4 linked regions of the Homo sapiens genome follow. The protein of the gene in region 2 interacts with the protein of the main gene of each other region in a pairwise test. Each region holds a gene or a part of one and is shown on either strand. Other genes may lie near its edges.

Region 1 (7,037 bases), on a different chromosome or scaffold from region 2:
AACAGCTGGGCACAGTGGCTCATGCCTGTAATCCCAGCTGCTTAGAAGGTTGAGGCACGAGGATTGCTTGAGCCCAGGAGTTTGAGGCTACAGTAACCTATAATCACACTACTGCACTCCAGCCTGGGCAACACAGTGAGATCCTGTCTCTAAAAATAAATAATTTTAAAAACTAAAAATATTTCTTAACTATACGAGTACACATTTTTGTTCATCTTGTATAACATACCATAGAATTCAGTCATTCAAAATATATAATTCAGTGGTTTTTAGTATTTCACAGTGTTATAACCACCACCATAATCAATTTTAAAACATTTTCATCACCCCAAAAAGAAACTCCATATCCATTAGCCATCGCTCCCATTCCTTCCCATCCCTGTACCCTATGGAACCACTAAACCTAATTTCTGTCTCTGGACTGGCCTATCCTAGACATTTCATCTAAATGGAATCATACAATAGGAGGTCCCTTGTGACCAGCCTTCTTTAACTAGCATGTTTTCAAGCTTCATCCACTGTTACAGCATGCATCACCACTTACTTTTATGGGTGAATAATTTTCCATTATAAATATACAACATTAAAAGAAATGTATCCATCAGTTCATGGACATTTGGGTTGCTTCCACTTTTTGCTACAATAAAAAGATGTACAATATCATTAACTATTGGGGAAGTGCAAATCAAAACCACAAGATACCACCCCATACCCACTAGGGTGGCTATAATCAAAAAGACAAGTATTAAAGATGTGGAGAGGCCGGGTGCAGTGGCTCACGCCTATAATCTCAGCACTTTGGGAGGCCAAGGCAGGAGGATCATGAGGTCAGGAGTTCAAGACCAGCCTGACCAACATGGTGAAACCCCGTCTCTACTAAAAATTCAAAAATTAGCCAGGCATGGTGGCGTGTGCCTGTAGTCCCACGCTGGGAGGCTGAGACAGGAGAATCGCTTGAACCTGGGAGGCAGAAGTTGCAATGAGCCAAGATTGCGCCACTGCACTCCAGCCTGGGTGACAGAGTGAGACTCTGTCTCAATAAATAAATAAATAAATAAATATGTGGAGAAACTGGAACCATTGCACATTGCTGATGAGCACGTATTAATAAAATGGCACAATGCCTCTGGCAAATAATCTGGTAATTCCTCAAACATTTAAACATAGAGTTACTATATTAACCCAGTAATTCCATTCCTAGGTACACATCCAACAGAACTGAAAATACATGTTCACACAAAATGGGTACACAAATATTCACAGGGGCATTTTCCTTAATAGCCAAAAGTGGAAATAACCTAGACGTCCATCGACTGATAGATTAAAAGAAAAAAGTGCTATATCCATGTAGTGGAATATTACTCAGCCATAAAAAGAAATGCTGATGCATGCTTCAACATGGATGAACCTTAAAATCATTATGCTAAGGAAAAAAGCCAGTCACATAGGACTACGTATTTTATGATTCCATTTAGATGAAATGTCCAGAACAGGCATATCCAGAGCACGTTAGCAGTTGCCAGCAGATAGGAAGAGAGGAAATGGGAGTGACTGCTAACCAGGTACAAGGTTCCTTCTTGGAGTGATGAAATGTTCTGGAATGAGACAGTGGTAATGGTTGCTAAACTTCATAAATATAATAAATTATCATTGAATTGTACATTTAAAAGCCTGCATTTTATGGCATATGAATTATACCTCAAAAAGAAAAACAAATTTAAAATAATCAGAATGATTACCAATTCGTATAGTTACAGGATATTCTAAATTATTTGAGGGAGGGAGGGTCTTAGTAGCTTAAGAAGCTTAAGCTCTTTTCCCCCTAATGTTCAATATGATCTTTTAAATTATCCTTCTTATTTTAGTCAACAAGTTCTGCTGTTTGCACCAGGATTATCTTGGGTCACAACATTTAGAAAAAACTAAATTAATTTAACAAATATTTATTAAGCACCACTTCTTATACGCAAGGTACCATTCTAGAGCTGGAGAAGTAATAGAGAACAAAACAAAATCTCTGTTCTCATTAAGCTTAAAGGCTTGGAAGAGGAGACAACAAACGAGTAAAATATATCAGAGCAGAAATAAAGGAAACAGGATAGGAAGGTGCTACTTTGCACAAGATGGTCATGGAAGAAAACTCTTAAACAGTTTGAGTCCTGAATGAAGTCAAAGAGTAAGCCATGTGGATATTTGAGGGGGAAAAGTAAACCAAGAAGAGAAAACAGCTAAAGGTCCTAGGTAGGAATTGGTCTGGCCAACAGCAAAGAGACTAATGTGGCTGAAAAAGAGTGGTAGGATAGGGTTAGAAAGGTGGTGGGAAAACAGACCAGAAAGTACCTTGTAGACAATGGTAAAGAATGAGACAGACAGGAAACCATGAGAAGATTGAGCAGAATGTCATTTTTTTTTTAGAACTTCTGTTATGTGGAGTACAGACTGTAGGGGGCAGTCTATACTTCCAGTTAGGAAGCTACTGCCAAAGTTTAAGTGAGAGATGATAGTGGCTTTGACCAAGTGGTATAAGTAAAGTTAGTGAGAAGTATTCAGACTCTGCATATATTTTGAAAATATTCTCAGTTTAGTATAAATTGGTATAATCTTCTAAGATAAGTAAGCAATATAAGAAATAAGAAAATTCTTTATCATTGTGCATCTAACAATTTATCCTTAAAAGAAAATCCAAAATCTGTACCAAAAGACTTATATAAAATGATGTCTGCTGCAACATTATTTACAATAGGCAAAAGTGGAAACCACCACGATAACCAAAAATAAGAAAGGTAAATTACAGTAGCATACCAGGTATGATGCAAAAGAATTAGACATTAGAGAGGATGTGTATTTATTTTTATTCCTTATATCAAACATATAAAACACATGAATTATAATTCCATTATTTATTTATTTATTTATTTTTAGGAAAAAGCCCAAAAGAATCTTCACTAAAATGTTAAAAGTAAACATCAATGAATGGTAGGACAGTGGTATTTTATTTTCTTACTTTTAGATATCTGTATTTATAATGTTCTCATGCTGAGGCTATCCCACTTGTATAGTTTAGTAGTGAAATAAAGCAAAATATCCATGTAACACATTATTCAGTTGCCCATCTTCTCCCATCTCTTAATCACAGGGAGAGTAATGGTTCTTAAACTGTCATTTCAACAACCATTTCAACCACAGATAGAGAAAACTTGGGAAAAATAGAAAATAAATCTGTCCACATTTCCACTCTACTGGTTTTAGTGTGTTAGGTAATAGGGTACGTAAAATGAAAAGTATCAATCTTTGCCCAAGAACCTCCTTCCAATGTAAACAATCATGTGTTGTTTGTATACATGTGTATACATGTGTAATTAACATTAACTTAAAGGAAAGTTAACTTGTAAAAACTGTATCACTAGCTACTAAATCAAAAAGAAAGAAAAAAAAAACTTACCCCTTTGACTGGCCATTTGCCCGATTTTCAAAAAATTTTATCTCCAAAATATCATTTACTCCCAAAGAATGAACTGCTTCAGTTAAGTCTTCATCTGTTGTCCACTGCAAGATATTTTCCCCCTCATTAACCATTAAAATAAAACCAAGATTTTTATTATCCCAGTCTAGTTTTTAAGGGGAAATTTGAGACATAAAAGAGAAAATAAATGCTGAGTGCAAATCTAAGTCTAGTTATGGCCAGTCAGACTCCAATTTTTAAACAGCACAAAAACCATCTGGGAACCTAACTTCATTCCCTGATAAGTATTTCAGAAACTAGAAGGTATATACCCTTGGGGTTACAATAAGATTTGACTCTCAAGAGTTTCTGGTCCCTTACAGCTTTAAACTGCTATGATTTTAAATTGTGAATAAAACCAATTTCACTTCCTCCCATTAAAGGAAAGTATTTTGAATTTCATCTTGTTTTTGAATTAAAATGCAGATAAGAAAAAACTAACATGTATTTAATATCTACCATATACTTTATGTATCAACTAACTCTTATAACAACCATATAAGCACTATTATTATACCCATTTTACACATGATACAATAGAAGTTAAAGAGCTTTAACTCTTTAACAAGGTCACAAAACTAATAATAGATGGTGGAGCTAAGATCCAAATACTTACTTAGCAACCATACTTTCATAACTACACTGCTACTGTCTCCAATTTTATAGAATACTCAGACTGGGTGGTGGGAGATCTGTTACATTTAGTTTTAAAAGAAATGTAAATAGGCTGGGCACCATAATCCTAGCACTTTGAGAGCTTGGTTAGGAGGATCACTTGAGGCCAGGAATTTGAGGCCAGCCTGAAGCAATATAGCAAGAAGTCAGCTCTACAAAAGTGTTTGTTTTGTTTTTAATTAGCCAGGCAGAGTGACACATGCCTGTGGTCCTAGCTACTTGGAGGCTGACACAGGAGAATCACTTCAGCCCAGGAGTTTGAGGCTTCAGTGAGCTATGATTACACCACTGCACTCCAGCCTGGGTGACAGAGTTTTGCAAATTCTGTCTCCCCCTGAAAAAAAGAAATGTAAATAAAACGTTTAAAAATACAGTGTTATTAAGGAAATGCAAGGGTGCCAAGTTTTATTGATTTTTGCATATACAAGTTTTTAACTTTCAAGTATACATATAACTAAGTAGAAATACAAACATTCTATAGGACTATTTTAATGATACTTAAGATGTAATATTAATAAAAAATAAATATACATATGTGCATTTAATGAAGCTCTAAATCAATAATCTTAGTCTCATGACAACCCAAATTAAAATATAATACGCACAGAAGTGCTTCTATAAATCAGATTTCAAATTTAAGGGCAGAAATAAAACTCAAATTTGTAACACAAATTAAATAATGGACACTATTTTTAAACCAGGAGTGATACTATGTCTCTTTCCTTTTACACTTGAATCCTGGTTTGAGACCCCATGTGAGCATTATTTTTAGTGAAACTGGGCTATCGGAAGCAAGGTAAAGTGGTAGCATAAAAAAGGTAACTGAAGACAAAACTAATTTAACTATATTTAACTAGTATCTCCACCAAGAAAAGTTGAATGACCACAAAACTCAAAACTAGAAGAATTCGAATTAACGATGTTGCAAAGATATTTGTATTTCCCTCCTCATTGGACAAGCAAACACATATAGAAAAACACAGTAACTTCAAACTTATAAAAATCTGGAGAAAAACATTAATTACTAGAGCAGTTCAAAATCAATTACCAATAATTTAATTCTTATATTAACTTCACTTACCCATGTTAGATTTCCAATATATAATGCAATTCTCTTTCCAGTATATGTATAGACAACATTTGGTGCTGCTCCTTTACCCACATCATCACCAACAGTTGGTGGGAGAGTATCCATGTAATCTCGGTCTTCTGGGGCATCTCCATTATTTGCAGATGGAGATATGACATCGTCATACAAATCTATCTGATCATGCCCACCATATTCAGCTTCCTGAGATACAGAAATAATGCTCTAGATTATACAAAAGTCAAAATACTACTAAAATAGACTTGAATACAAATTCAACTTTTTGTTTTAAAAATCTGATGGAAAAAGGCCAAGGATTTCAGTACAAATCTTTTTCCACTTTATGCAATAGATGTATTCTTGAACAGGTCTAAAAAGTGAATTTCTTGCCGGGAGTGGTGGCTCACACCTGTAATCCCAGCACTTGGGAGGCCGAGGCAGGTGGATCACTTGAGGTCAGGAGTTCGAGACCAGCCTAGCCAACATGATGAAGCCCTGTCTCTACTAAACATACAAAAATTAGCCAGGCATGGTGGCACACGCCTGTAATCCCAGTTACTCAGGAGGCTGAGGCAGGAGAATCGCTTGAACCTGGGAGGCGGAGGTTGTAGTGAGCCAAGATCGTGCCATTGCACTCCAGCCTGGGCGACAGAGCAAGACTTCATCTCAAAAAAAAACAAAAAAACAAAAAAAGGGGGTTTCCTTTATTTCTTTTCTTTTTTTTCTTTTTTTTTTTTTTTTTGTAGAGACCAGGTCTCGCTACATTGCCCACGCTAGTTTCGAACTCCTGAGTTCAAGCAATCCTCCTGCCTCGGCCTCCCAAATATAGGCTTGAGCCACTGCACCCAGCCTAAAGTTAATTTCTATATAACGAAACCTACTTTTCCACTGATATTTATTATAATATAAAAAATAAGTTCTTTTGGAAAAAGACATGGAAACAAAATAAGTAACATGAAACTTTCCTTGGAAATACTCTTAACTAGAAGTAATAACACACAAATGCAAATAGACAAGTTTTTTTTAAACTGACAGTAGAAAAATCACCCCAAAATCCAAAGCCATTATATCTTTAATATGACCACAGAAAAATAGTTATTATTTTCTATAGTATTCAGATCTTGTTTTCCAACCTTGAGGAAGCTACCAGTATTAAAAAAAAGCATAGTGAGCTGAGCCATAAAAGAAAGAAGAAATATGGGTATGTAAATAATTCAAAATGTCGTAATAAATGAACAAGGTAAAGAGAAATAAACGAAATACATGTAGAACAATCCAAATTAATTATCTTGCAAGTTGTATTATTCTCAGTGAACAAAGAGCTAATGCTTACCTGAATTCTTAGTTATCTAGTCAAGCAAATTAGCAAGAGAAAAGCAACAGACAACAAAAAGAGTATAGTAAAGCTTTGGCACTGTCACCAGCAGAATTAAAGCAATGCTACTGGGTGTCACTTACATGCCTAAATGATAATCAGGGAAAAGGAAAACTAAAATGAAACAGAAACAGGAGCAGGAAAAAAATAGAAGAGGGTTCAATTTGTAACTAAGTACATGAAAAATGAAATGTAGGTAAAAGCAGAACACTCAACACTATTTAATTGCCTTTGATAACCATTAAATAGACCATAAGCTTGACTAAGCCTGTAGCACAGGAAAATCTCCATTTTTATCTTCTACTCTCCCTTTCCACAACTAAGTACTTGTATTGGTGTGAACCATTTTATTCTTATGACATAGAACATCTGACATAAGGAAAAAGACAATTATAAGA
Region 2 (7,000 bases):
TCCCACAAGGACCAGGTGAGCGGCCCTGGGTGACCAGCTGGCAGGCGCAGAACACTAAGGCCACACCTAGTTCTCCAGCCCCTCACTTTGCCTGGGAACGGAGATGAGGCTCTGACAGCACCCAGGAGGCAGAAGGTTCACAAGGGAATACAGAGGCCTGGGCCACCTCAGAAGGTGCTGTGCTCCAGAAAAGCCTGGTGCCTTGTAGGAGGACAGGGGGCAGTGAGGAGGGAGAAGGTGGTGGGTGTGGACGGGAAGCTGGTCTCCTAACTCAGAAGGAGGAGTATTTGCCTAGATGCCGCTTGCCCCTGCCTGGTCCTGGCATATCTAACAGTCCTGCCTGGGCCAGGACTAGTTTGTCCTGATTGCAGGGTGAGGTGCCTGGATTGGAGGGATGGAGCCTGTGCTGGCTTCTAGCCGCAGTCCCCTCCAGCCCTGTCAAGTCCCCCTGTGGCTTTTGGCCATAAGCTCCACTTTGGCGCAAGTGTGGATGGTGATGACGCCTTGACTGCAGGGGTGCTGAGGGCGAACGGAGAGCTGCCTGGGAGGACGAGGCCTCCACTGCAGTGGTACCTGCTGCCTAGGTTTCCCCTCCTGGCCAGGGCAAGGATCTGATGGTCAGTGCTGGCTAACGCCTCTCACTCAGGAGCCACCCTCATCAGCACCCCCTGTTCAGTCTTCAGCTGCGGCTAGGTGGCCCATGGCCAGAGTACTAGAAGCAGCTCCAGGAAGCAGCTGCAGTCCTCCAGGGCTGCTCCAAGGGCCGGCACCCTCTTCTAGCCACTCTGTCCCTGCATGGCCATGAAGTGCACTGCTCTGCTCCCAGCTCTCCTGCCCCCCCTCCCACCCCCAAACCTCTGCCTCATTCCACATTCATTCCTCGCCAGTGACTTGTGGGCCCCTCTGTGCCAGGCACTGGGGCACGGAGATAAGCAGCATGCAGTCGTAGGCTCTGTCAGAAGGGGGCAAGCCCCCAGGCCAGGACATGCACCCCCGAGAGGCAAGCCAGGGATAGGGAGAAGGATAGCACTGGGGCTTGGAGGGGGTGCAAGTTCAGACCGCTGGGGCTGCACACAAGCCTGTGTGGGACCTCTGGCAAGTCATTTGACCTCTATGAGGCTCTGTTTGCTCATCAGATGTGGTAGTAACAGTGGCTGCCCTCAGAGGCGGCGCGTGTTCTCCAAGCCTCTGGCACACACAAGTACTTCGCATACTTCTAGAGCAAGTATGCAAGATACAGGGCTGGAACAAGCATACTGCTGCAACACGCTTGCTCCAGCCCTGCAGCAGCACTGAGCAGAGAACAAGTGTCTGCCTGGGTGGCTCTGGGCTCACTGCACACAGGGAGACAGTGGCTTGTGGAGGATGCATGACGCTGACGCTAAGAGCTAGCACGGAACACCCCAGGTCAGTGTTCCAAGTGCTCACGAGTCAATCACTTAATGTCCGTGACAGGGCTATGGCCACTGTTCAACTGGGGAAAGGAGCTACAGAGGAGTGAGTGAAGCAGCCTGCCTGGGGCCCAAGGAACCCACAGCCGGGTCAGAAGCAGGGCTACCTAGGCCCAGGCAGCGTCAGGCGGCATGTCATGCCTGCAAGCTCTGGTGTGTGTAGGATAAGTGAGTCCCTGTGCCTAGAACTCAGGGTGGGTAGGCAACGGGGCAGGAGAGGCAGGGGCCTGGTGTGGAGGGCGTTGGTGTCAGGGGTTTCCACTGCTCCTAGAGGTCAGGGGCATATTTCAAGCTTGGGAGTGACATGGTCTCGGTTTTTGTGTTAAGAAGATGCAGGCTGAGGAGGGAGGACCGCCTGAGCCCAAGAGTTCGAGGCCAGCCTAGGCAACATAGGAAGACCCATCTCTTAAGAAAAAATAAAGAGAGAAGGAAAATATTTTAAAAAAAGAAAGAAAAAATGCTGGTGGTCTCATGCAGCCTTTTGGTTTGACTTATCACCTGTGTGCCCCGGCCTGCCTGCTGAACGCCAGCCTTATACCTCCACTGCCCACCAGACACCCCTACTCTATGGCTCCCGGACATTTCAGACAGCATCGCAAAACACAGCTCCTGATATTCCTCAGCCCTCCTTTGCAGCAAACGGCTTCTCCATCCTGCTAACTCTCAGGCCAAACCTCTGGGAGCCATTCTTGACTCTGCCATGTCCAACATGTGAGTCGGGCACGAATCCTTTCGCCACCTTCACAGGTGTCTAGACCTGCCCACTTCTTGCCATGCCCACTGCATCCACCTGCTCATGCCACAGCCATCTCCCCTCTGGATCTCTCCCCGACCACATCTCCCTGGCTGTGTCTCCGCCCCCGTCTGTCCTGCACACAGCAGCCAGCAGGGCAGGTCCCCCGTGCTGCGCAATCCCTCGGTGGCTCCCGTGTCCTTCAGGCTGAAAGCCAAGGTCCTTAGAAAGGCCCAAGGCCCTATGTGCCCTGCCGCCCTTACCTCTCCAACCCTGCTTGAAACTGCCAACCCCAGACCTTGCACTCCTCGGCCTCCTTCCTGCCTGATTTTTCCCACAATACTTATCACCATCCGACACCTCAAACGTGATACTCATGTACTGTGCATCTTCTACCATTAGGACGCAAGCCCCACAAGGCAGGGATTTTGTCTCTCTTGTTCACTGCAGTATCCCCACAGCCTAGAGAAGGGTCTGAGCATGGCACCCGTGTGTGCTGACTGGAGTGGGGAGACAGGACGGAGTGAAGGTAAACAGAGCACGTGGGCTGGTGCAGAGAGAAATGCAGGCGCTGGGCTTAGCCAGCATCACCCACTGAGTCCTCACAATAGCCCCCTGAAGTGTGTTATAATGTCCACCTTCCACAGGCATGAAAACAGGATCAGAGAGATCAGGTCACTTGCCCAAGGTCGCACAGCAAGTAAGCAAGAGAGTGAGGTCTGGCCTCAGAGCCCAGGGCTGCTGCATGGCACAACTCCAGGGGACATGGGTCGTGGGGAAATGAAGTTGGGGTCATAATCCCTGCACTGTGCTGTGTTGGTCCCCACAGGGCTGTGAGAAAGTTGGGGAGGGGAATGGCTTGAGATAGCTGACTCTCCATCAAAAGGGGCTCTGCCAGTCTGTCACTGGCAAAACAATCTGAATGGTTCAGCCAAGGAACAGATGGCTCAACTTCTACCCTCTTTGAGATCATCTATATTTTGAACAGGAGACGATGGCCTTAACCTAGTAGTTCTCAACCAGATAGGGTCGACTTTTTTCCACCGAAAGAGGTTTTTGGCAGTGTCTGCAGGCAGTTTTGATTGTCATGACTTGGGGAGGGGGTTACTACTACTATGTCACGGGTAGGGGGCCAGGGATGCTGTTAATAGGCCTACAATGCATAGGACAGCCCCCACCGTGAGCATGATCTGGCCCAAAACGTCAGTCATGCCGCCGTTGAGAAACCTGCCTCAGCCAAAGAAGTGCTCTGGGACCCACTGCCCCCCGTACTGTTTCCAGAGAGCATGTCGGTGCGGGTCTCAGATGAGGAGGGCCCATGGCCCTCACCAAAGCCTCTAAGGGCTCTGAGACCCCCAAAGGTTAAGAGCCAGGTGGGTCTCTTAGCTCCTTGCTCCTCAAAGCGTGGTTTGAGGCCCAGCAGCATCAGCATCTCCTGGGAGCCAGTGACAAAAGCAGTCCCTGCTCTGCCCTGCTCCCACTGGACAGGAATTCGGGTCCAAGCCAGGTCTCAGGGGTTTGTTTGTCTTTGCTTTTTTTTTTCTTGCTATGGACTAGAGAACCAGGCGCCTTGTACAAACTTCAGATATGAGAAGCCCTGAACTAGCCGAGATGACAGGGGCAGCTCTGGACACAGACCTTCTCCAGCATGAACCTCAGGGACAGGCCCAGCCAGCTGAATGCCTGGGTCACACACACTCCACACCAAGGTCAACAGGAATTATGCAGAACACCGGGGCAAAGCTTCTTTTTGTTTGTCTTTTCTTTTCTTTTCAGAGTGGGTCACGAAGTACCTGCTCCCTGCGACTCACCTGGGCTGACCCAGGCCTGTGGTGGAAGCAGAGGCTGGAAAGCATCTGGGAGGTCACAGATTCCATCCTCCACCCCTTGGCTGCCCCCAACTTCACCACAGCAGGCAGCTGGGCACCCCCAACATCAAACGCCTCTGCCAGGCAGCTCTTCAGCTCATTCTCTGGGTTAACCAGCCTGAGTGTAACGAAAACCTCCGAGAGACTTGAGGCTGACCTAGCACAGAGAACACAGCCCTGACAGGCCAAGGGGCCCCGGCACTCACTTGAAGATCTCCCTGCTCTTCCCCAGCAGGGACTCCAGGTAGGAATAGCCCAAGGCCCTGTAGAAGCAGTTCCCATCCCCTTTGGTCTTGCGGATGGCGGTGAACCTTTTGCTGAGTTCCTGAGGGGGACAGAAAGAAATGTGGGCATTTGCACCAACAACGGCTCTGTGTGGTTTGGGCACTGGGACTGGCCAGGTGCCCCCCATCTCTCCCAGGAAATGTCTGCTCCCTCCCTTCAGGCTGCTATCCCCTCAGCCTCCCACCCTCGTTCATTCCCCTGATATAAAAATACACTGCATTGTCCTGTGTGTCCGTCCCTGCCCCCAGGCAGCCTACGGTCCGGGAGGGAAGATGGATAATTAGACAGTGGCATTGTGAGGGGACAGGAGTGCCTGGCTGGGTGCCACGGGGCACTGGCATTGCACTGGATTTTGGAAGTTGGGGAAGCCTTCCTGGGGGAGCAGCACTGAGAATCGGGAGCTGGCAGAAGTAGGGGGTAGGGGGTTGCATGTGTGAGCAGGGGCGGGAGGGGTGGGCTCCAGCTCCACTCCTAGCAGTAAGTAGGTGTCCCTCTGAACTGGCCTGGAATCCCCTTTCCTGCCTCATGGGACTATAAGCAGCATTTTGACAGCAGAGGATGGTTTTCAAGGGGTCTTGGAGTTCCTGTTCCCCCCATAGCCATGAGAAGGCTCAGAGCCGACTTGGGCCCACCTGAGGCCAGCTGGCAGTGGGGAGGCAGGCACTCTCTGGAGCCCCTGGCTCATCTCCCAGGAGGGCTCTGGGGGACACAAAAGTCAGTGGGCTGCAGAGCCCAGCTCCTTCCCTGGAAGTGCCCCGCAGCGGCGTTCGGATCACATGATGCCCACACCACTACCCCTGGCTGCTGATGGACATCTGACCCAAGCTGGACCTATCAGAGTCTCTGAGGATAAGTAATGAGGCCCAGCAACGGTGCTGCGTGTCTGAGAGGAACTTGAAGGGAAGGGCCTGTGGGGCCAGTGCCAGAGCAAGCCTGTCCTGCAGCGAGAGGAAGACCTGCAGAGTGCAGAGAGCGGCCAGGGCCTCCTACCAGAGGGACAGAGTGGGCACCCAGCTCCTCCTGCCATCCACGGGTGAGTGCTCCATGAGCGATCCCTGCAGCCTTCCCACAAATCCCTTTAGCCTCACTGGCGTAAACTTTCCCTCCAAGAGGTCTCCCAGCACAGCAGTTATGAATGTGGCTTGAGACTCAGCTGCCTGGGTTTAAATCCTAGCTTGGCCACTCATGAACTAAATGGCCACCACTTAATTTGTGTGCCTCAGTTTCCTCAGCTGTAAAATGGGGGTAATAAAAGTACTTACCTCACAGAGTTGTAATGAAGTATTGGTGAGTAAATAAAACATTAGGATAGTGCTAAACTTTTCAACAAAAAAAAATCCTTTTTTTTTTTTTGGAATGAAAGGATTTATCGCTAAGGCAAATGTCCAACATCAAAATATCCTAGGAATCCTTTCATTTGCCCAGGAACCTGGCCCAAACTATCGGCCTTCAAAGAGGCATCACCATTACACTCCCAACTCCAGCCTGTTTAGTTTCGGATGCTCTTCTCCCTGCCCTCTGCCTCACCTCGATTTTCCTCCGGTAAATCCTGTTTTCAGGATGGTCCCGAAGAATGGATAGAATGTCACATTTTTCTGATATTAGGTTGAAAGATGTTTCACTCTGAAAGATAGGGAAGGAAGAAATGCTGTGACAATTTCAAAAGCAACGGACGGGACTCCCCGAGCTGGTGGCCTCTGAACTGCCGGTTACAGACAACAATGAATGAGACCTTCCCACCTTCTCATGCTGGGAGTATGTTACCAGCATCCTAGACGCCCGTTGGGATCACCGCATTTCCAGAACAGGGATAGTCAGGGTCGGGGCCATCGTGAAGAGATAGCCCTGGTTATAAGGAAACTCATCTTTTTACTGGAAGCCTGATTCATTTCACAGAATGTGTACCTCAAACTTAACGAACCTTCATGCTGGAGGATAAGGCCCTTTGTCTCCTTCCATCCCTCTTCTCTCATTCATGCATTCATTCATTCGTTCATTCATTCTTTTACTCATCCAACAATTCCTGAACATCCACATGCCCAGCACTGTGTCACATGCTGGAAATACAGAAGGAAGGACGTCTAGCACTCCCTCACCCACAAGGCTCACAGTCTACAGGGAAAAACAATCAAGATAGGGGGTGATAAGGTCACCAGAAGAGGCCGCAGTGTGTGGCACTGGTACATGGAGATGCCAGAGAAGGTGTCAGAGATCTGAGCTCGGGGAGCACAGGGCAGGAGGGCATCTTCATGCACCACCTACCGGCGAAAGTTTACACTACAGCCCAGCTCTGGGTCTAGGTCAATTCCAACCCAGAAAGACAAGCCTCCTACAGGCAGGATCTCTCCAGGCCAGAGAAGAAATTGGCGGACAGAGAGGAGGCAACTGCAAAAGGAAGCTTCAGGGTGAAGGAAACTGCAGGAGACACGTTCTAGCAGCCAACTCCCCGTGGGCCTGGTCTCCGCCTTGTGCTATCTTGTCAGCAGGGCTCAAACAAGCAGGAGATGCAACTCTAGCCTCCAACCCACCCAGAGCCGCTTTGATTGCAGCATGAACATACTGTGAGAGACATGGTGTTAAAGCCACTTATAGTTTACAGCTTAAAATAAATGAGGCTGGCTCCTGCACACAACCCAGGGAGACCATTTTTATGCAATAGAGCA
Region 3 (5,737 bases), on a different chromosome or scaffold from region 2:
CGGAGAGGTGCCCGCATCCTACTCCAGCTGCTGACAGCCTCACACAGCTGGGCTCCGGTGCCAAGGGTCCAGGCAGCTGGACAGGGCAGCCAGTGTCCCAGGCCAGATGTTTGGGCACCCAGACTGTACAATGCCTGCCCAGGGGTGGGGGCCCTTGGCTCAGGCTCTGCATGAATCCTGGATGTGGCCCCTCAGATAAATATCAGTAAACCCGGTTTGGACTGATGCTGCCTGACACCACCAACTCGAGGCAGAGCCCCCTCCCCATCCTGAGAAGCAGTCACAGAACATCAGGGCTGTTTCCTGCCCCGAGCCACAGGGTGCCACAGAATCGGGGAAGCTGTGGATGTGGCCGCACTGGCCACTGTGTAACCTGGGTGAGTCACCACCTCTCTGAAACCCCCACCCAGTGTTCCCTGCAAACCCAAGAAAGCAGTCTCAACAGGGAGAAATGACCGCACAGAACTAGCACGGGGCAGGGCCACACGGACTCTCCTGCCGGTGCCTGGCCCTGGCATCTCTCCGGCAGGTGGTTCCTCCGCCTCCAGCACGTGAGTGGTCCAGAACCCTCGTAGAAGCAGGTCCCATGGGGTGTGGCCGAATCCACGCCGGGTTCCAATCTCTGTGCTGTGCTGGAGAAGCTCCCAGGCTCTTGGCTATCAAATGGCTCTAGGAGGGGCATTCCTCAAAAGACCCTCATGTGGGGTCCCTGTGTCAGCACTCTTCTGCCTCAACATCCCTCCCCCACATCCCAGGAAGTGAGTGTCACAGCCCTCATCCTCCAGAGGGGACCCTCAGGCAGGCCTGCTCTGGGGGATAGAGATAGGGTCCCTCCTTGGAAAGGTGACCTTGACAAGTCACTGCACCTCTCTGAGCCACCCTTTCTGCATCTGCAGCTTGGGGCCAGTGCTTCTCCTGGGGGCACCGCTCAGCCCCAGGTGGGACCAGGTGAGGCGGTGAGGCTCAGGCCTCAGGCAAGGGAGGCCGAGCGGGGGCTGGCAGAGGGCGGGTGGCTCAGAGGGGCAGACGGCAGTGTGAGTTAGTGGTGGTGGTAAAGCCCCTCGGGTGGATGGTGGACGCAGAGAGGATGGGGCAGCCCCTGTGTGCAAGTACCTGCCAAGTTGGCATGGTGTCCTCCAAGCCCCTCTCACCTCCTAAGGCCGTGGTTTATTTTTGCCCATGTCCATAAAGACACCCTGGGGGCTCCTGAAGTCACCTGCTGGTCCAGGGCTGGTAAGGCTTGGGAGTCGGCTCCCTCCAGCCCCCACATTGGCAACCAGGTTCAGGCTGGTTTGGCCGAGCAGGGGCCCAGGGTGTCTAGCAGCTGCTGGGGAGGCCAGGGCCACTACAACTGAGCCCCTGGGGCAGGGACTGTGGGCAGAGAAGCTGCCTGGGGAGGCCTGGCCTCCAGGGCTCAGACCTGATTTCCAGCAGCCCCTAAAGGGCCATCCACCCCCATACCCCCCAGGTCTTCACAGTGTCCATGAGGGGAATAGCAGAGAGGGGCTGAGTGGGCAGGAAATCCCCTAGGGAGGGCAGGGCCTCTGAATCTCGGCTGCACACCCTGCCCCCTGGCCTCCCAGCTCCTGCCCCACCTGTCAGAGCATCACCCCTGGGTTGTAAGTCCTGCCCCCAGGGGAGTGAGTTTCCCAGCCTCCCTTGAGAGGGCCACTGGGGTACAGGCAAAGAGAGGAGCTGGGCGGGGCTGGGGGAGCACACCTCACCTGGCCTCACCTGGTTTCCAAACCCTCTTCCTCCCCCTCATTTCTCTCAGCCCCTTATCTGCTCCTGCCTGTTCTCTGTCCCTTCCCCAAGGCCCTCTCCATCCTGAACCAGTTTCCTCTTCTGTGGAACAGGGGCTGGAGTGCCCACTTTGGGGAGTTCTCTGGGTTAGGTGGAGGCTGGGCACAGTGGTGGCATACGGGCACCACTGGCCCTTCAAGGTCTCCTTGGAATCTTCGAGGGCACGCCCTCCCCACAGAGTCCTCCAAGCTGTCCTCCTGGCCTCCAGTACCCCCGACCCCTATCCCCATCCTCATGTACCTGCTGTGCCCCTGGGGTTTAGAGGGATTCCTCTCCCCTCCTCTGGGGTCCCAGCACCAGCCAGGCCTGCAGGCACACAGTAGGTGCTTAAGCAACCACGAGTGTCGGGGGATTTGCCTGGAGCCGAAGTTCCACTGGCTGGCCCCTCAATGGGGTAGGCAGGCTGGTGGGCCTGGAGGTGTTCCAGGCACCTGTGGGCTGGCGCAGTGACAGAGCGCTCTGCCCCCGGCCGCTTCTCCTGGTCTCCCACTGCCCAGAGGTGCCTCTTGCCCAGGTCCCACTGTCCGGCAGCCCAGGGCCCTCTGGAAGCAAAAGAAGGGACACCAGAGTCCGAATCCTTCCTGCAGCCTCTCCGGAACAATGCTCGAATCCCCTCTCCCCGCCAAAGGCTGACCTCCCCTCACCCACCCACCCTACCTGCTGCTCCCTCACCACAGGATCCCAGCCCTGCTGCAAGGACAGGTGTCAGGTAGGGGGCAGTGTTGACCCGCCGGCCCCAGGCAGGTGTCTCACTCCCAGGCCAGAACCCTGGCACAGCCCAACCCTGCCCTCTGCCGGCACTGCCCCTCCACACCACATCCCTGCCCACTGCCAGGTCCTCTGGCCACACCGGTGGGACCACCGGGCAGCTGCTACCTGCATGCCATTCACAGAACCGGGTCTGGGGCGCTCCTCTGAGCCGGACGTCTCTTTATCCTTTACAGTGACCCTGAAGGGCAGGTGGAGGTAGGGCTGGTCCCAGGTCTGGGTTTTACGCTCTGCTGCCACTGTCTTGACATTTTAAATACATTTTGAATCAGGGGACTCTCGTTTTCATTTTGCGTGAGCCCCGTCATTGAGGCCAATTCTGACCCCAGAGTTGGGACTTCCTGCTGTAACCACCCCAGGGCGCAGCTAGGGGGCAGGGGTGCGGGAAGGTGGGAGACGTGGAGTAGTAGCCGGGGTCTCTGGGGTCCTCTCGGCCGGCTCCACCCCCACCCCTGGGAACCCGGGAAGAGCCGGCTTTCGCTTCCTGTCTATTAAACCCTTTAAAGGAAGAGGGTAAATAAAACCGCCCGTCTGCCCAGCTGGAAAGCGATGACTCAGCCGCCCCCGCCGACCCTCGCCCCCAGGCTGATCCCAGAGAGCGGGCGTCGCGGCCCAGCCCGAACCCCTCAGCTCCTGGGACCTCTCTCCGGTCCGGGTCGTGGGGGCGCGGTCGGAGCAGTCCGTACCCCAGTTCGGGACACTACGAGGGCGCAGGGAGGAGAACGGGCTTCCTCTTCCCCTTCCATTTTCTGAGCTCTATGGGTTGCTGGTCTAGCCCTTTCCACGTGTTCCCTAATCCAGCAAAGGTTACTGTTCCCATTTCACAGAAGCGAAAACCGAGGCTAAGAGAGGTGGTCGTTCTTGGCGCAGCCCGTGGGTGGCAAGATAGGAGCTCGGTCCGCTAGGGCAGGGCCACTTTCGGAGAGGGTCTCTGGGCGGCCCTGGGAAAGGCCCCCGAACAGGACGGAACGGCCAGGGCTCGGGAGTAAGGAAGGGGGCCTCGACCCTCCTTCTGCCCCGGGAGCCCGAGAGCGGCAGGGCTGGACTTGGGGCGCCTGGAGGGTGAAGGTCTGGTCCCGGCTGTCTCCCCACGGTGGGCCGGCCCCGGGCCCGCGGGTGCTTCCCGGGGCTCCCCGGCGTGAGTCATCGCGGGCAGGGCTGGCTGCAGCGCATTCTTCCGCGGGGCCGGCCTGCGAGACGGTGCGGGCGAGCGCCCGGGCGGGGCGGGACCTCGAGTCACCCCACGGGGCCGGACAGCTGGGGCACGGGGGGCAAGAGGAGCGCGGGCTTCTGAGATGGGAGGGGACGGCCGGGGACCGACCAGAGCGCGGACGCGACGGTGCGGGCCCGGACGGCTGGGCTTGGGGAGGGTATGGCCCGGGGCGCGCGGGGCTCAGGCGGGCGGGGTGGCCCGAGGGCCGGGGCGGGGCGGGGAGGGGCGGGGCGGGGAGGGGCAGCTATAAAGGCCGCGCCGGGGCCACGAGGAGCAGAGCCGGCGCCGTCACCGCCCGCATTGCCGCTCCCAGTCCCGCGCTCGGCACGACATGAAATCCCCCGACGAGGTGCTACGCGAGGGCGAGTTGGAGAAGCGCAGCGACAGCCTCTTCCAGCTATGGAAGAAGAAGCGCGGGGTGCTCACCTCCGACCGCCTGAGCCTGTTCCCCGCCAGCCCCCGCGCGCGCCCCAAGGAGCTGCGCTTCCACTCCATCCTCAAGGTGGACTGCGTGGAGCGCACGGGCAAGTACGTGTACTTCACCATCGTCACCACCGACCACAAGGAGATCGACTTCCGCTGCGCGGGCGAGAGCTGCTGGAACGCGGCCATCGCGCTGGCGCTCATCGATTTCCAGAACCGCCGCGCCCTGCAGGACTTTCGCAGCCGCCAGGAACGCACCGCACCCGCCGCACCCGCCGAGGACGCCGTGGCTGCCGCGGCCGCCGCACCCTCCGAGCCCTCGGAGCCCTCCAGGCCATCCCCGCAGCCCAAACCCCGCACGCCATGAGCCCGCCGCGGTGAGTGACTGCCCGCGTCCCGGCGAGCCCTGCGCCCTAACAGCCGGGACCGGGGCCTTTGGGAAAAACCACTTCAACCCCAGACGGCGGGGCGGGGGCGCTGCACCTCCTTGGGGGACCCGGCGCCCCGCAATCGCGCTGGCCCCCTCGCGTCAGGGTCTCGGGGCCCCTCAGGCTGGACCCGGACCGGCCCTGGCACAGCTCTCTGACCCAGTCCTTTCCCCACAGGGCCATACGCTGGACGAGTCGGACCGAGGCTAGGACGTGGCCGGCGCTCTCCAGCCCTGCAGCAGAAGAACTTCCCGTGCGCGCGGATCCTCGCTCCGTTGCACGGGCGCCTTAAGTTATTGGACTATCTAATATCTATGTATTTATTTCGCTGGTTCTTTGTAGTCACATATTTTATAGTCTTAATATCTTGTTTTTGCATCACTGTGCCCATTGCAAATAAATCACTTGGCCAGTTTGCTTTTCTACCATCCGGCTGTGGCTCAGTGAGACTCCTGCTGGGAGGGTGGAGGCCCAGGAATGGGCGGGCAGGACACCCTCATCCAGTCCTGCGGGGCTGGTGTGAAAGGCGCTGGGAACCGGCTTTGAATGAATAAATGAATCGTGTCATCTGCTGGGCCTGGTCCACACCCTCTTTTCCAAGCAGCCTCCCCAGAGGCCAGGAAGTGCCCTGGGGCTTGACCCTGGCTACCTTCTGCTCCTTGGTGTGTCCTGAGGAATTGAACCTGGGGAGGACAAGGGCCCTGGGTCCGAGCTGCTGCTGCCTGTGGTGGGGGAACCTTCCCCAGCAGCACTTCCTGCCCACAAACCACCCGCGCAGTCAGACCAGAAGGAATCCCTCAGCCCTCTGGCTGCCCGCCGCCAGCCGCTCCTTGCCAGTGCCCGCAGTGTGGGGCGGGCAGGGTCGCCTTTGCTTCTGGGGGAACAGGAGAGAGTTCTGGGCTGTCTCCGATGGTGGGGCAGGAGGCAGAGGTCCCTGCACCTCCAGGTACTGGCCCAGGACATTGGGGTGGAGAGGCCTGAGTGCAGCAAATCCCTGCCCCTCTTTCTGAGATAGCTGACCACGGCTTTCTGCCCTCCGGTCTGGCTGTGCTCTTTGAAAGACAGGGATGGTCTGAGACAGTTAGGGTTCAGGAAGTGTGTC
Region 4 (7,637 bases), on a different chromosome or scaffold from region 2:
GTGTGTAAAATATAATGTATTTTAAAAATTGATGGTGATGGATATAAAACTACAAAGATATGATACCCCACTGAATACAGGTGAAAGAATGATGTACCAATATTAAAATGTTAATATCAATACCATGTGGGAAACTGCATTCTTTTCAACTAACGCATGATGTAAAATGCTGTAAGTTAACCAAAAGTGTGCAAGAGGGACAGTTTTACAAAAATTATTTGGGGGTTCACAAGCAAATTAAAAGTACTGCTTTAAAAATCACTCACAACTATAATATATAGCAAAGATATAATGGACATGGTCTGTCTCTGGCCCTCAGAAGCACCAAAATTTACTATCTTTTGTTAAGCTCTCTATATGTGTCTGGCACCCTTCTAAGGTTATCCAATCCTCACTCTTGGAGGTTGATATCTGATTTTAAAAATGTTTTACAAATATTGAGCAGCTTGCCCAAGAAGAGAGCTAGTAAATGATACATTCAAATCAGTTCATGGATCAGAAGATTATCTGTCAAGAAAATTAAATGAGCTCTCGCCTGTAATCCCAGCTACTGCACAGGCTGAGGCCGGAGGATCGCTTGGGCCCAGAAGTTCAAGGTTGCAGTGAGCTATGACTGCACCACTGCACTCCAACCAGCCTGGGTGACAGAGCAAGACCTTGTCTCTTTAAAAAAAAAAAAAAAAGAAAGAAAGAAAAGAAAAATGAAAATGAAAATTAGATGAGATGTGTTTGATTCCAAATCTAAAAGTCCTACTATGTTTACAAGTCAGCAGAGTGAGGGAGGGGTGAAGAAAACCCAGAGTGTCCCGTCGTAGAAAGTCATGTGGCTTAAATCTTCAATAGGTAGCATTTGAAAGTAGAAGCGAGGCATAATGAAGGAATATAGCTAGAAGCAATATTTACCTTGGGTATACGTTTATTTCTAAGCTTATTTTACATACGGTGTGATGAAAGATTTCCTAATAATGTGTCAATGGAGGGAACAAGATGGCTACTGAGAAAGAAGAGTGTGCCTGTGTGTAGGGGTGGAGTGGGAGGGCTAATTCCACAGGATTGCTTAATAACCTTCCTTGCTACATCTCCATCTTAAAGAGAAAAAAAGGATACACGAGAGAAGAGCCTGGGTATCTAGAGGTTATATATAAGTCTAATGGTCAATTTCAGTCTAATCTCTGGGGAATCTCAACACAGAAAGAAAAAGGTTTATATTAAAATATCACATTTTTATTTTGTGACTGGGATTTGCTATATCCTCAGCGGTCTCAGAAAATACATTTTACAGAAATAAGGATTGGAGGATGGTGACTTAAAAAAAAGCCTATTCTATTCCTAAGCACAATTAAGTGTCAATCAAGTGTCCTGAAAAGATAAAAACCATTATCACATTATTTCACATTATTTAATTTTCAAAGTTAAGAAGACAAAGTCTTTGAAATGACAATCTGATGTATTAAACAGTACCTACACCAGTGTACAGTCTTCAACAACAAACCAAAATCTGTTCCGATACCAGTAGTTCACCTAAATTCTAATTTTTTAACGTTCTAATAAAACACATTTATTTCAACATAACTACATGTATGTCTGTGTATGTCTTAAAAAATACCCGAGAAAAGGTAAAATTCTGCATTAAAATACCTAGCAATTTAGTTCGATTCCATAAACACTGAAAGAAGTAACACTCTCACTTAACAGTCAACATTACAAGCAGTCTTTAATAATACCGCATTTAACTCCTTAGAGCTAGCACAAGTTGATCTAATGCCTATTTGGCCCTTTACCAAAAAAGCGGAGGGGGCTTTGTCTAACACCTGTATACACCTCCCTCCGTAGCATCCCGCTCATTCTAGCTTCTTAGGGAAACCATAGACAACGACGTTTCAGAGAGTGCCAGAGGTGAAGCCGACCCGAAACCACATTACAGAAAGGCTTCCTGTTTCAAACAGGTCCAATAAAGCCACCAAATTAAGTCTACGATTATAAAGAACTGCGAATCAGAAAATAATTCCATATAGGTGCAGTCTTCTATTACTTTTTTCCCCACTTTCGGAAATTTCAAAGAAAAATTGCTACATTCTTAAATATGAGGCCATTATTTCAAAGGCTGTAACAACCTGGAACGCAAATTCGTTAAATTATGATACAATAAGGCCAACCTCGAGGATCCTCGGTGGACTACTAGCGCACTTCCTTACAATTAGAAAGTGAAAAACTGGGTCAGCCCTAGAGTCACGCAATAATGCTGCGTCACGAAACTGCGCATTCCAAGAGAAACTTTTCTCAGGCCCAGAATTAAGTCGGAGGGATCCGCCGCGCAGCTCAATCCCTAGGAAGCATGAAAGAATGTATTGTAAAGAGTAAAATCACGCGCAATCCATCCCAATATAACCGCAGTTGTTCGTGGGCCTTCTTGCAGAGAAAGGCTGCCCAACCTTGACGGGGCCATGGGCGCTGCGGGAGGGCAAAAGACCACAGAGATCTGCGAAGCCAAAGTAAACAACGGGGTTGGGGCGGCGAGAATGATCAATAGCGATGCTCCGAAAGGACTCCGCGATAGGAATCGAGCGGGAAGGATTCCCTCCATCCTAACAGTCCATGGGTTAAGAGGCCGAAGCTTCCCTAAATACCACACTCCCGCGAGAGAAGGGACTGAGAACAACTTCTCAAACTATTCTCTCTCGAAATCGCTCCCTTCCTCGAAAATTCCATCTCTGAGACTCGGATGAGGTCCCCACCCCCTCCACCCTTGTCCCGTGACCGTCGCCCGCTCAGCCTCCCAGCCGAGTCCGCGGGGCCTGGGGCGCCCACCCCGCCCACCCAAGGGACCGCGCAGGGGTGAACTCCCCCGCGCCCCACCTGCGCCTTCCAGACCTCGGGCGCCCCGGCGTTGCCTCGAGAGCTCCCTGCGCGGCCGCCGCGGCACGGACCAGCTCCCACTCCCTTACACTGGGCGCCGCTGCGCTCGCCGGGGGCCGGTCCCGAGGTTCCCAAGGCCTCGCGCGCGCGCTTGCCGTGGCAACCAAGACGTTCCACGACGCGCGCTCTCGAACGCTTCGCGTCACGCGGCCGCGCGGCCCCGCCCGTCGGCCTCGCTCCCGCCACAGAGCCCGCAGCACGCCGCCGCCGCAGCCTAGGTCACGTGAGTACCCACGCGCGCGTCTTGCCAGCGGATTCATCACCGGCCTGCTCAGACTAGGTTCTGCCCACTCTGACCTTCTAAATGGTACGTGGGAGGACGTCCGTCCCCTTCGGACCCAAGAGTCACCGTAACACTCTAGAAGGGGAGAAAAGGAGCGAGGGCGGCAGGCGACAGAGAACCTCGCGAGTCAGCGGCCCCGCGCAGACCCCCCCAGGCACGGTCCCCTGCGGCCACGTCGGCTGCTCGGCGCCTGCGCAATCTCTTTCTCTCCAGCGAAACCGAGGCCTCCGGAGAGCCTAGTAGAGAGTGTGGGCAGTGAGCGCTTGTAGCCGCTAGAGGGAGCGCTGGGCACAGTGCACGAGAGACAATAAAGGCTGATTATCCCCTCAATGTCTCTGCAGCCTGAGCTTTGTGACTTCTGTATCCAGAGCACAGTTAATTTCCAAAAGCCCGCCTGCACCACGTGTTTTAAGTCTTGGTGTGTGTGTAAAGTCTATATCACTATCATAAAACTGTTAGTTCCTGATTCCGGGATACAAAGAGTAAAATCAAGATGAACATACTTTACCCTTCTTGACAAGTGTTTTTAAATTAGTAAAATATTGTAGATGACAGACTCTTCAATAGGGCTGCCTTAGGGAAAAAAAAACAGAAAAAAGAAAAAGCAGTATGTACTTGCCCGGAGCATTTAGAACCAGTTTTGTTGTTGTTGTGTTTTTGTTTTGTTTTGAGACAGAGTCTTACTATGTTGCCCAGGCTGGAGTGCAGTGGCATGATCTCGGCTCACTGCAACCTCTGCTTCCCAGGTTCAAGCGACTCTCATGCCTCAGCCTCCAGAGAAGCTGGAATTACAGCTGTGCACCACCACTCCCGTCTAATTTTTGTATTTTTAGTAGAGACGGGGTTTCACCATATTGGCCAAGCTGGTCTTGAAAGCTTGACCTCAAGTTAGCCAGGCTGGTCTCGAATTCCTGACCTCAAGCGATCCACCTGCCTCAGTTTCCCAAAGTGCTGGGATTACAGGCGTGAGTCACCGCGCCTGGCCTTAGGACCAGTTAAGTGACTCCCTCAAATCTCAGAAAGGTAGCAGTCAGTCATCCCAAAAAGCAAAACCTATTAGGAATATATTAATACAGTGGTTTCAAAATGATTTTGCTCTTATACCCCCAAAGGAGTCCCCAAAGACTATGACTGTATTCTCACTTCCACGTTTTTGGATTGACCATCACAATTTCTCATCTGACTTAAATAGTTACAAAAGAAGCAACTTCTGTTTTATTATAAATTAACATTTTAAAATAAAAGTTATATAACTTTTAAATGTAGCCAGTGGAATCTAAATACCAATTTAATATCTAAAATCATCAATTTTTAAAACTACATGAACAAGCTTTTAACAGAAGGAAATTTTACATCATTTCTTTTCTTCTTGAACTCATATTTCCGTTCCATATTGTGAAATTGTATGTCAATATTTCTTTAGTCTTGCAAATATTGGCCAGGCTTGGTGGCTTATGCCTGTAGTCCCAGCTACTCCAGAGGCCGAGGCAAGAGAATCGCTTGAGCCCAGGAGTTCGAGACCAGCCTGGGCAACATGACGAAACCCGTCCCTACAAAAAAACACAAAAATTAGCTGGGCATGGTGGTACACATCTGTAGTCCCAGTTACTCCAGAGGCTGAGGCAGGAAGATCACCTGAGCTGGGGAGGCAGAGGCAGCAGTGACTGAGATTGTGCCACTGCACCCCAGCCTGGGCAATAGAGCCAGACCCTGTACCCCCTGGCCCCCACCAAAAAAAGAAAGGAAATCTTTTATTGGTCATCTACTCTACTTCTTTACATTTAAAAAGTACATACATTTAAATAGAATTTTTTAAATTTCCAACAGCCATAAAGATGAATGTGTTTAAAACATGTAGAATTTCTATACACAAAATTGTTATATATAGAAAACCCTAAAGAATTTACTACAACACTGTTAGAACTAATAAATGAGTACATCAAGGATTCAGGACAACAGGTCAACATACAGAAATCAATAGTATTTCTATACACTAGCAATGAACATTTCAAAAATGAAATTAATTCCATTCATAATATTATCAAGAAGAATAAAATACTTAGAAATAAATGTAATAAGTGCAAGACTTGTATGCTGAAGACCATACAACATTGCTGAAAGAACTTAAAGACCTAAATAAATGGAAAGACATCCCATGTTAAAGGGTTGAAAGACTTCATATTGGGAAGATGGCAGTACTTCTCAAATGGACCTCCAGACGCAACACAATCCGTGTCAAGATCCCAAATGACTTTTTTGCAGAATTTTGCAAGCTGATCCTAAAATTCATACAATCCAGGGAAATATAAGGACCCAGAATAGCCACATGAGCACACACACACAGATCTTGAAAAAGAAGAATGAAGTTGGAGGACTGACACATTCCAATTTCAAAACTTAACTACAAAGCTGCAGGCCAGGCATGGTGGCTCACACCTGTAATCCCAGCACTTTGGGAGGCCGAGGCAGGCGGATCACCTGAGGTCGGGAGTTCGAGACCAGCCCGACCAACATGAAGAAACCCGGTCTCTACTAAAAATACAAAATTACCTGGGCGTGGTGGCGCATGCCTGTAATCCTAGCTACCCAAGAGGCTGAGGCAGGAGACTCACTTGAACCCGGGAGGTGGAGGTCACCGTGAGCCGAGATTGTGCCATTGACTCCAGACTGGGCAACAAGAGCAAAACTCTGTCTCAAACAAACAAGCAAAAAACTGCAGTAAGTCAGTGTGGTTAATTTTTGTTTTATGAGGTATGTTTATGTTCACAGAAGCTTCCACGTATGGTTAAGTTACTGCTAGCCATAGTAGTCTAGTGCTGACTTCTAGGAATATTCGTACTACTGACTGCAGAATTACCTGGCATCCAAACAGAAAGACACTGGCCAGGCACCATATTGCTTTCTGTTTGGGTCCTACAGTGCCCAGTACCAGAAGGATGTGGTAGAAGGAACAAGTAAAGTGAACAGGGCCAGAAGCTCATCTGTAGAAAAGTGTAAGCAAAGGATTTGGTTTGCTCCTCAGTACCTGGTCAAAACCTGTATTAGTGGTCCTTCCAAATTCGATAATTGTGAAATTCTGTGACACTCTTAATACTGAATTATGAAGCTGAACTGAGCTTTCCTAAATTATATTAAAAAGCTAATCTTGATAAACTATGCTAGAGGAAAAACTGAATTATCTGTTATCTCTGTGGAATATGTTGCAAAATCATTTTCATATGAAGAAGCAATCAGCATAGAGCCAAGAAAGGTGGGGGAAAGTATTATGGGCTGTGCCAAGCACCTGAATAATAGAATGATGTTATTTTTCTGGATTTTGTGGTATCTGTAGTATTCGTCAGCTTTTTTAAATTAGTAATTTTTTGATTCACTTTTATTATTTTCCTACAGAAGGCCATTCAAACTGTGAAAGCTGCAAGCATCACAAAACTTGGATCTGCTTAGGCCAAAGGGGTGCTTGAGATTAGCAGAAAATAATTGCGTATATTTGGAAACATGTAAAAAGCCATTTTTAACATTTAATATATCTTATTGAGGTAAAACAAGGATTGGATTGTCAAATCAGACTGACAAGATTCAGAGCTTTCTTTTACCCAGTCACAAGAAAATAATGGCAGTATCCAAAACCACTAACCCAGGTCCCCAGGGCTTCCCCGAATTCCTTAGAACACATTCTGGCTTAGATCTCGCAGGTGAGGTCTCTGAGTAAGTTATGCCGGTGAACACTTACACAGATGGAGCTCTTTCAGTCAGGAACTATCTCCGTTTTATACTGAAATAATTACATGGTGGACACTGACATTTTCCACTGGGCCATTCCATGTATTAATATATCGATCAATTCCGGGTTTATTTACCTTAGGCCATCTAGACAGACCAGGTGTACCCTGCTAAAAAGCATTTCATAGACAAGGACTCCCCATTCTCTTTCCACCAGAATATACCTTGCATGTTTACAAGGAGATTTGATTTGGTCATTTCCACCTGGCCATCTCAGGATAGGAATAATTGGCTAAAAACCAGCTGCTGTCACTTAACTTCTAACTTTTCTCCCCTGTCTTTTTTTCTTACCAGATCCTTCTAAAAAAAATAATTCTCTAAAACTAGTGAATAATTGTGGCTGAGGTCTTTAAATGAAAATTACCATCATACCATTATAGAAGAGAACAATATTTTGAAATCATGGCACTTTTGGGGCTTTTACCCCTGGGTAATGCACCAGAGTAAGATTTAGGGAGCTGTGTATTTCTTGCATAAAGTGGGAAAAGTTTTAGTGTGAAAGGAGGAGTAGGAAAAAAGATACTAGGAAATAGCACATAAAAAATTAAAATCTGGGTATTGATTATCTTATCTTATATCCCTGTAAATTTCTGCATACCTCCAGTGGTATACATACCCCGGTCAAATATTTTTACATCACATACTTGTAGCAGAGAGT

Evidence for each region.
Region 1: the proteins of OTUB2 (region 2) and CPSF6 interact in binary tests that used the Homo sapiens proteins (3 or more experiments, as listed by UniProt).
Region 3: the proteins of OTUB2 (region 2) and PHLDA2 interact in binary tests that used the Homo sapiens proteins (3 or more experiments, as listed by UniProt).
Region 4: the proteins of OTUB2 (region 2) and SPART interact in binary tests that used the Homo sapiens proteins (3 or more experiments, as listed by UniProt).

What each region holds. Positions count from the first base shown.
Region 1 is NC_000012.12:69,249,560-69,256,596, reverse strand, and holds part of CPSF6 (cleavage and polyadenylation specificity factor subunit 6), read right to left. Parts: intron 5,469-7,037; coding exon 5,259-5,468; intron 3,547-5,258; coding exon 3,443-3,546; intron 1-3,442. UniProt on the Homo sapiens protein: Component of the cleavage factor Im (CFIm) complex that functions as an activator of the pre-mRNA 3'-end cleavage and polyadenylation processing required for the maturation of pre-mRNA into functional mRNAs.
Region 2 is NC_000014.9:94,036,340-94,043,339, reverse strand, and holds part of OTUB2 (ubiquitin thioesterase OTUB2), read right to left. Parts: intron 5,961-7,000; coding exon 5,865-5,960; intron 4,378-5,864; coding exon 4,259-4,377; intron 1-4,258. UniProt on the Homo sapiens protein: Hydrolase that can remove conjugated ubiquitin from proteins in vitro and may therefore play an important regulatory role at the level of protein turnover by preventing degradation.
Region 3 is NC_000011.10:2,927,743-2,933,479, reverse strand, and holds PHLDA2 (pleckstrin homology-like domain family A member 2), read left to right. Parts: upstream 1-4,059; 5' UTR 4,060-4,115; coding exon 4,116-4,574; 3' UTR 4,575-4,584; intron 4,585-4,812; 3' UTR 4,813-5,207; downstream 5,208-5,737. UniProt on the Homo sapiens protein: Plays a role in regulating placenta growth. May act via its PH domain that competes with other PH domain-containing proteins, thereby preventing their binding to membrane lipids.
Region 4 is NC_000013.11:36,343,369-36,351,005, forward strand, and holds the start of SPART (spartin), read right to left. Parts: upstream 3,027-7,637; 5' UTR 2,857-3,026; intron 2,766-2,856; exon of another isoform or gene 2,433-2,765; intron 2,207-2,432; exon of another isoform or gene 1,812-2,206; intron 1-1,811. UniProt on the Homo sapiens protein: Lipophagy receptor that plays an important role in lipid droplet (LD) turnover in motor neurons.